2 linked regions of the Homo sapiens genome follow. The protein of the gene in region 2 purifies or fractionates together with the protein of the main gene of each other region. This does not show direct contact. Each region holds a gene or a part of one and is shown on either strand. Other genes may lie near its edges.

The links.
Region 1: the proteins of RNF214 (region 2) and TTC3 purify together in Homo sapiens (affinity purification with mass spectrometry; one large-scale study listed by BioGRID and IntAct). This does not show direct contact.

Annotation. Positions count from the first base shown.
Region 1 is NC_000021.9:37,146,142-37,149,963, reverse strand, and holds part of TTC3 (E3 ubiquitin-protein ligase TTC3), read right to left. Parts: intron 2,484-3,822; coding exon 2,361-2,483; intron 1,419-2,360; coding exon 1,317-1,418; intron 1-1,316. UniProt on the Homo sapiens protein: E3 ubiquitin-protein ligase which catalyzes the formation of 'Lys-48'-polyubiquitin chains. Mediates the ubiquitination and subsequent degradation of phosphorylated Akt (AKT1, AKT2 and AKT3) in the nucleus.
Region 2 is NC_000011.10:117,235,523-117,239,344, forward strand, and holds part of RNF214 (RING finger protein 214), read left to right. Parts: intron 1-3,078; coding exon 3,079-3,589; intron 3,590-3,822.

The sequences.
Region 1 (3,822 bases), on a different chromosome or scaffold from region 2:
TTCAGGCAAGTGGTGAAAATCCTTACTCACTGCCATGCGAATTTTAAGGCTTCCGTGTAGGAAAAATATACTTTCAGGTGTGGGTCTGACCATGTGACTTGTTTTCATCAATGCAAAGTGACCAGACATGACATACACATGTCTAGACAAAAGGTTTAACAAACACTTCATAGACTGGACATTGTTCTTTTTCCTCTGACACAGGAAGATGTTCCAGAAAAGGGTCATTCTTCAACTTAGATTGAGAAACAAGGAATAGAGCCACACAAAATAAAGCTGCTACAGCCCAGTCCCAGCCAACAACTGCAGAACTGCAGGACAAGTCATGTAAGCAAAAAACAAACTTCTCTGATGTATGCCACAAGATATTTGGGTTGCATCACTTCAGCATATCCTAGGGAAAGCTGACTAATTTACAGAGTGTATTTAAAATGATGGGAATAGTTAAGACCACTAAAAGAGGGTATATCACTAGAGAAACTCAATTTAGGTAAGACAAAGACATAGCAGAAGTGACTCAAAGGTGACAGTTATTTACTCATATCATTATATTGTTAATTAATTATGTGAAAATGTACAAAATGTGAGAATTTATTTCTACCATACTTTAATAATTGCTATTGTTAACAGATGCCTAGTACAACTGCCTCATTCTTTCCCCAATAAGAACAGTGGTCTGCATAAGCCTAAGAAGTGTAGGAAAAGGTCCATAGTTTCTATAGATCAGAAACAAATTCTATGAATACAAATAAGATTGTAATACTATGACTTCCCTCAAAGTATGTCTACTTAATGGTAATTAACATCATTATCTTGGTAATAAGAAAATCCCTGGAGAGAAATGGCAGTTTAAAATTGAAGTTGATCTTTCTTCCCAACATTAAAAAAATTGTTTTGAGTTGACTTCTTAGTACAAATTACCTCATCAAATTTTGGTTTTGAAATCCCTAATTCCACATCAAAACTTTCAAGTGGGGCCTGGTGCAGTGGCTCATGCCTATAATCCCAGCACTTTGGGAGGCTGAAGTAGGATCACTTGGGTCAAGGAGTCTGAGGCTGCAGTGAGCTACGACTGCACCACTGCACTCTAGCCTGGGCAACACAGTGAGATCCGTCTCTTTAAAAAAACAAAGCCTCTATGGTTAATGCCTTTATGATTGTCCAAATAAAAACAAATTTGATTTTCCACTTTATTATTAAAGTTATAATTTAAAATTTTCTAATTATGTGCAGAATGTTCAGGAAGGAATTCTTGGGGGAAAAATTGACATACAATAAGTATACTGAAAAATTCAGACAATCCTGTTATGCTTTACCTTGTCAATTTTATCATTAAAGGTTGTAGTTTTTAACTTCTTCCAGCAATTCATGTGAAATTCTATTTTACAGTACTGGCAACAGCTGATGCGTATAAAACCCTAGGGTTACAAAAAATTTTTTAATTAACGTTTTAAAGATGTCTCTGCACACTCACTCACTACAACATACATAAAGACAGAGAGAGCTTGACTAACATATTTATTTCCACAGCATAAAGTTGCATCATTCTTCAAAATATATCAAATATTTTATAAACATTATTTCATCTGATTTACTAACCAGGGACATTGGAACAGCAGGACAAGGGCAGCTACTAGCTTCTTGAATAAACCAGTATAACTCAATTAAGTGCCAGACTTATCTCAAATTTAGGTCTCTAACAGCTAATTCAATGATCACAATGACCTTTAGATTTGGGACTCAAATTTTATGAGAGATCAGAATTGCAACAAATCAGAGGTAACAATCTCACTTTGTTTCCTATCCTCCTAAGGTAGCTTGAAGAGGAAAAAGAATGAGCCAGCCTGCCTTCTCAGGTCACTACCCCAGCCCAGAGCGTTTATACATCAGTGGCTCTGGTTCCCATGTGAGACGATGTAGACCTAAAAAAGTCCAGGAAGGCTGGGCGTGGTGGTTCATACCTGTAATCCCACACTTTGGGAGGCTGAGGGGGTGGATCACGAAGTCAAGAGATCGAGACCATCCTGGCCAATATGGTGAAACCCTGTCTCTACTAAAAATGCAAAAATTAGCTGGGCGTGCTGGGACACGCCTGTAATCCCAGCTACTTGGGAGGCTGAGGCAGGAGAATTGCTTGAACCCAGGAGGCGGAGGTTGCAGTGAGCCAAGATCGTGCCACTGCACTCCAGCCTGGGTGACAGAGTGAGACTTATCTCAAAAAAAAAAAAAAAATCCTGGGAAAGGGGTGGACGACTGCTAACTAGCCAGAGAACTTGGGTGCCTCCAATTACAGATTGTTTTGAGCCCATTTTAAGAAATGATTTTGCAAGTTAATGTCCCACTGTACACTCATTATTTACCTTAAAGTCTGGATCAGTTATGTATATCTGGATCTTAGAATATCCATGGCACTTCTGATAGCAACAAATGGCATCTGGCACTGGAGGGAACTTGCATTCTTCAACAAATTTCTCTAACAGCATCTAAAACAAAATAAACAAAAATGATACCATTACAATACTAATCTGTCAATAAAAATGCTTGTGATTTCAATAACCTCTTGCCATCAAAATATTTTCAGCATAAGAATGACTAAATTTTTTCACCAACAACAAACTACATACAACTTTTAAAGTTTTTCCTTTTAAAAGGAAGGCTGATAAGAGACATAAGAGAGATTTAAAAAGAGGACTGGACAAAATTTTTTTTCAGAATTTCGAAAGAATCAAAATTTTGTCCTGTTACAATCATCAAATCGCATTTTATAATTTACAGCTCTCAGAAATCTTCCATAAGCATTAAGAGGAAGTCAAGTAAGGCAGAATAACCCTTAGGGTAATCCTGAGGACTTTACCAGGCTCCTCTTGCCCAACATCACCTCATCCAGAATCCTAACACTCCCATTATCTTCCTCCTTGCAGCTCTGCCACTGTTGTTTGTGGACTCCCTGGAGAATTATTCCACTGCTAATGAAGCCCCCAAGAGACTCATGCCATGCTTCCAGTGCTGGCTTTTTGTTATCAATAGCTCCTATGCCTCTATCCCAATCTTGTATGAAGAGAGGTAAATCCAAGAATCCCTGTGTTGTATTTTTTATAATAGCTTTGTTGAGACATAATTTACACACTATACAACTCAAATGAAGTGTACGGTTCGGTGTTCTTAGCATATTCACAGGATGTGCTGACATCACCACGGTCTAAATTTAGAACATTTTCAAAAAGAAACTCCATACGCATTAGCAGTCCCTCCTCATTTTCCCCTAACCTTCCAGGCCCAGCAATCACTGGTCTACTTTCTGTCACTATATACAGACTTGCTTATTCTGGAGATTTCATAGGAATGGACTCACACAAGCCCTTTGTGTTTGGCTTCTTTTACTTAGCATAATGTTTCCAAGGTCCATCCATGCTGCAGCATGTTATCAGTACTCTTTTTTTTTTTTGAGACAGCGTCTCACTCTGTCACTCAGGCTGGAGTGCAGTGGCACGATCTCAGCTCACTGCAACCTCTGCCTCCTGGGCTCAACTGACCCTTCCACCTCAGCCTCCTGAGTAGCTGGGACTACAGGCATGTGCCACTATGTTTGGCTAATTTTTGTATTGATGGGTTTCGCCATGTTGCCCAGGCTGGTCTTGAACTCCTGAGCTCAAGCAATCCTCCTGCCTTGGCCTCCCAAAGTGGTAGGATTACAGGCGTAAGCCACCAAGACTGGCCATTTGTTTTTGAGGCAGACTCTCACTCTGTTGCCCAGGCTGCACTGCAGTGGCACAATCAAGGCTCACTGCAGCCTCAACCTCCCAGGTTCCAATACTTACGTAC
Region 2 (3,822 bases):
GAGTCTCGCTCTGTCGCCCAGACTGGAGTGCAATGGCGTGAACCCAGCTCACTGCAACCTCCGTCTCCTGGGTTCAAACGTCTCCTGGATTCCCTTACCTCAGCCTCCCAAGTAGCTAGGATTACAGCCGCCCAGCACCACGCCTGGCTAATTTTTGTATTTGAGTAGAAACGGGGTTTTGCCACGTTGGCCAGACTGGGTATTTTACTTTTCAGTGATTTATTTTTATATTTTAAAAAATGGACACGATAATTGTACGTATTCATGGGGGTACATAGTGATGTTGTGGTGTATGTGATGTATAGTGATCAGATCAGGGTAATTAGCATGTCCATCATCACAAACGTTTATCCTTTTGAATATTTTCAGTCCATGGTTGGTTGAGTCCATGAATGTGGACCACATTCTACATAAAGAGGCTGACTGTGTATTCTTCCTCAACTCTGTTTTTTTTTTGAGAGAGACTCTTGCCCTGTCCCCCAGACTGGAGTGCAGTGGTGCGATCTTGGCTCACTGCGACCTCTGCCTCCCGGGTTCAAGTGATTCTCCTGCCTCAGCCTCCCTAGTAGCTGGGATTATAGGCACCTGCTTGGTAGCCCGGCTAATTTTTGTATTTTTAGTGGAGACCGGGTTTCACCATGTTGACCAGACTGGTCTTGAACTCCTGACCTCAAGTGATCTGTCCGTCTTGGCCTCCCAAAGTGCTGGAATTACAGGGATGAGCCACTGCACCTAGCTCCGTCAATTTTTTTGTTTTTTTTTTGTTCTTGAGATGGCATCTTGCTCCGTCACCCAGGCTGGAGTGCAGTGGCGCGATTTCCGCTCACTGCAACCTCTGCCTCCCGAGTTCAAGCGATTCTCCTGCCTAAGCCTCCTGAGTAGCTGGGACAACAGGCGCCCGCCACCACACCCGGCTAATTTTTTGTATTTTAGTAGAGGCAGAGTTTCACCATGTTGTCCAGGATGGTCTCGATCTTCCGACCTTGTGATCCGCCCGCCTCAGCCTCCCAAAGTGTTGGGATTACAGGCATGAGCCACCGCACCTGGCCGTCCCTCAACTCTTTTCCAGTGTACCTGGGTCCCCTAATACAGTAGCTAACACTTAACTACAGTTCCATACGTGGTAACACATTTAATCTTCACAACAGTCCCAGGAGGTAGTGATAATATTATTCGCATTTACCGGTGAGGAAACTGAGACACAGAGAGGTTAGTAATTTGCCCAAGGTTTCCAAGCTATGTTGGAGTCAGAGTTTTGATAAATAAAATCAACTTCATACACTAGTAATAATGGCAGCTAAGGTTTATTGAATGTTTACTATGTGCCAGGCACTGTACTGAGTACTTTATGTGCATTATCTCATGTAATCCTCACAACAGTCTTGTTAGGTGGATAGTATTATTTCTGTTTTACAAATGAGGTAACTTGCCGAGAGTCAAACAGCTTGTAAATGGTGGGCGGAGTCAGGATTCAAACTCAGGTACTGTATATGCCTGAATTTTTAATTAAGCACCCGCTCACAGTTAACTCCCAGCAGGAAGGAATCAGCTTCGAGTGTTTTTATTAATATTATTGAGACAGGGTCTCCATCTGTCATCCAGGCTGGAGTACAGTGGTGCGATCATGGCCTACTGCAGCCTCCACCTCCTGGGCTTAAGCAGTCCTCTCACTTCAGCCTCCCAAGTAACTGAAGCTACAGGTGCACGCCACTACACTTGGCTAATTTTTAAATTTTTATGTAGAGAGAGGGTCTTGCTATGTTTCCCAGGCTAGTCTTGAACTCCTGACCTCAAATGATCCTCCTGCCTTGACCTCCCAAAGTGTTGGGATTACAGGCATGAGCCATTGCTCCCCAGCGAGATATTCTTTCAGTTGTTTTATTTTGAACTAGTACGACTGAGGAAACAAAGACGCATCAACTTGAATCCCCATTGCTAGTTGGGTATGGTTAAGAGTGTCAGTTATAGAATTAGTTTAAAAAAAGAGGGTGGGGTCAAAGAAATTAAACATAGGCGTAATTCCTGGGTGAAAGATGTGCAATTGTGAATGTTGGATGTCATTGTAAATATGTTTTAAAGTCCCCTTTAAAAAGCAGTACCTCACTTCAGCCTGGGTGACAAAGTGAAACCCTGTCTCAAAAAATAAATAAATAAATAAAAAATAAAAGCAATACCTTGAATGGCTGTGACAAGTGACAGAATATCCTAATGTTAAGCATATGTATACTTACTGTGTGGGATAAAATTTCTATTGACAGCTTCAATTTTGGATTCAAAATTGTACTTTAGACAACTTAAAGTGTAGGTTCTATACTCTGGAAAACTGTTGAAGAACCTAAAAAGTGGTTCTGGTCAAAGATCTGTATAATGAGTTTGAATGAAAATTATTCCTGTGAAAGGTGAGAGAGGAATAAAAACAATACTTCTAAGTTAATATTTGATTATAATATTATGTATAACTAAATTAATACATGTAACTAAATTAAATATTCTAACTAGTATTAGGCTAATTCATCGGTATCCCCAAAAGTTATTAAAATTGGCACTCAAAAATTATTTGGATCTTCAGAATCATTTATGTTTGGCCATTTACTGTAGAACCCAGGTTTTTGGCCAGCTCACGCCTATAATTCCAACACTTTGGGAGGCTGAGGCAGGCAGATGGATCCCTTGAGTACAGGAGTTCGAGACCAGCCTGGGCAACATGGCAAAACCGTGCAAAAAATACAAAAAATTAGCTGGGCGTAGTGGCATGTGCCTGTAGTCCTAGTTACTCACAAGTCTGAGGTGGAGGATTGCTTGAGCCAAGGATGTTGAGACTGTAGTGAGCCTTGATGGCGGCACTGCACTCTAGCTTGGGTGACAGAGTTTAGAACCTCTCTAAAAACAAAACCAAAAACAAAAAACTAGGTCTTAACCACCAGGCTATACTACCTGCATACAGGATAGAAATCATTGGATTGAAACTAAGTTCTTTCATTATGATAGTCGGGAGGGTTTACGTAGTCTAGTTTTGTTCTTCTAGTAGTTAGGTTGAAAGTATTATATACTTTTCTTTTTATCTTGTGTGTTTGATAGCACCAAAGACTCTGCACAGAAGCAGAAGAACTCGCCTCTGTTGAGTGTAAGTAGCCAAACAATAACCAAGGAGAATAACAGAAATGTCCATTTGGAGCACTCAGAGCAGAATCCTGGTTCATCAGCAGGTGACACCTCAGCAGCGCACCAGGTGGTTTTAGGAGAAAACTTGATAGCCACAGCCCTTTGTCTTTCTGGCAGTGGGTCTCAGTCTGATTTGAAGGATGTGGCCAGCACAGCAGGAGAGGAGGGGGACACAAGCCTTCGGGAGAGCCTCCATCCAGTCACTCGGTCTCTTAAGGCAGGGTGCCATACTAAGCAGCTTGCCTCCAGGAATTGCTCTGAAGAGAAATCCCCACAAACCTCCATCCTAAAGGAAGGTAACAGGGACACAAGCTTGGATTTCCGACCTGTAGTGTCTCCAGCAAATGGGGTTGAAGGAGTCCGAGTGGATCAGGATGATGATCAAGATAGCTCTTCCCTGAAGCTTTCTCAGAACATTGCTGTACAGGTCAAGTGTCAAGTTTCTACTACTAAAATGTAATTGGGGGGTGGTGGGGTTCAGGGTGGGAGATATTTCTTCATATTTGGTGGAGAACTTGCTGGCTTGTTTTGTTTTTTGTTTTTTTTGCTAGCAACCATCATACTACTCTCATACAGTGCCATACAATGACTTCATTCTGATGTTCAGTAAATAAGAAAGCCAGTAGCCATTGTCTAATCTTATGGCAAGTAGGAACTTTA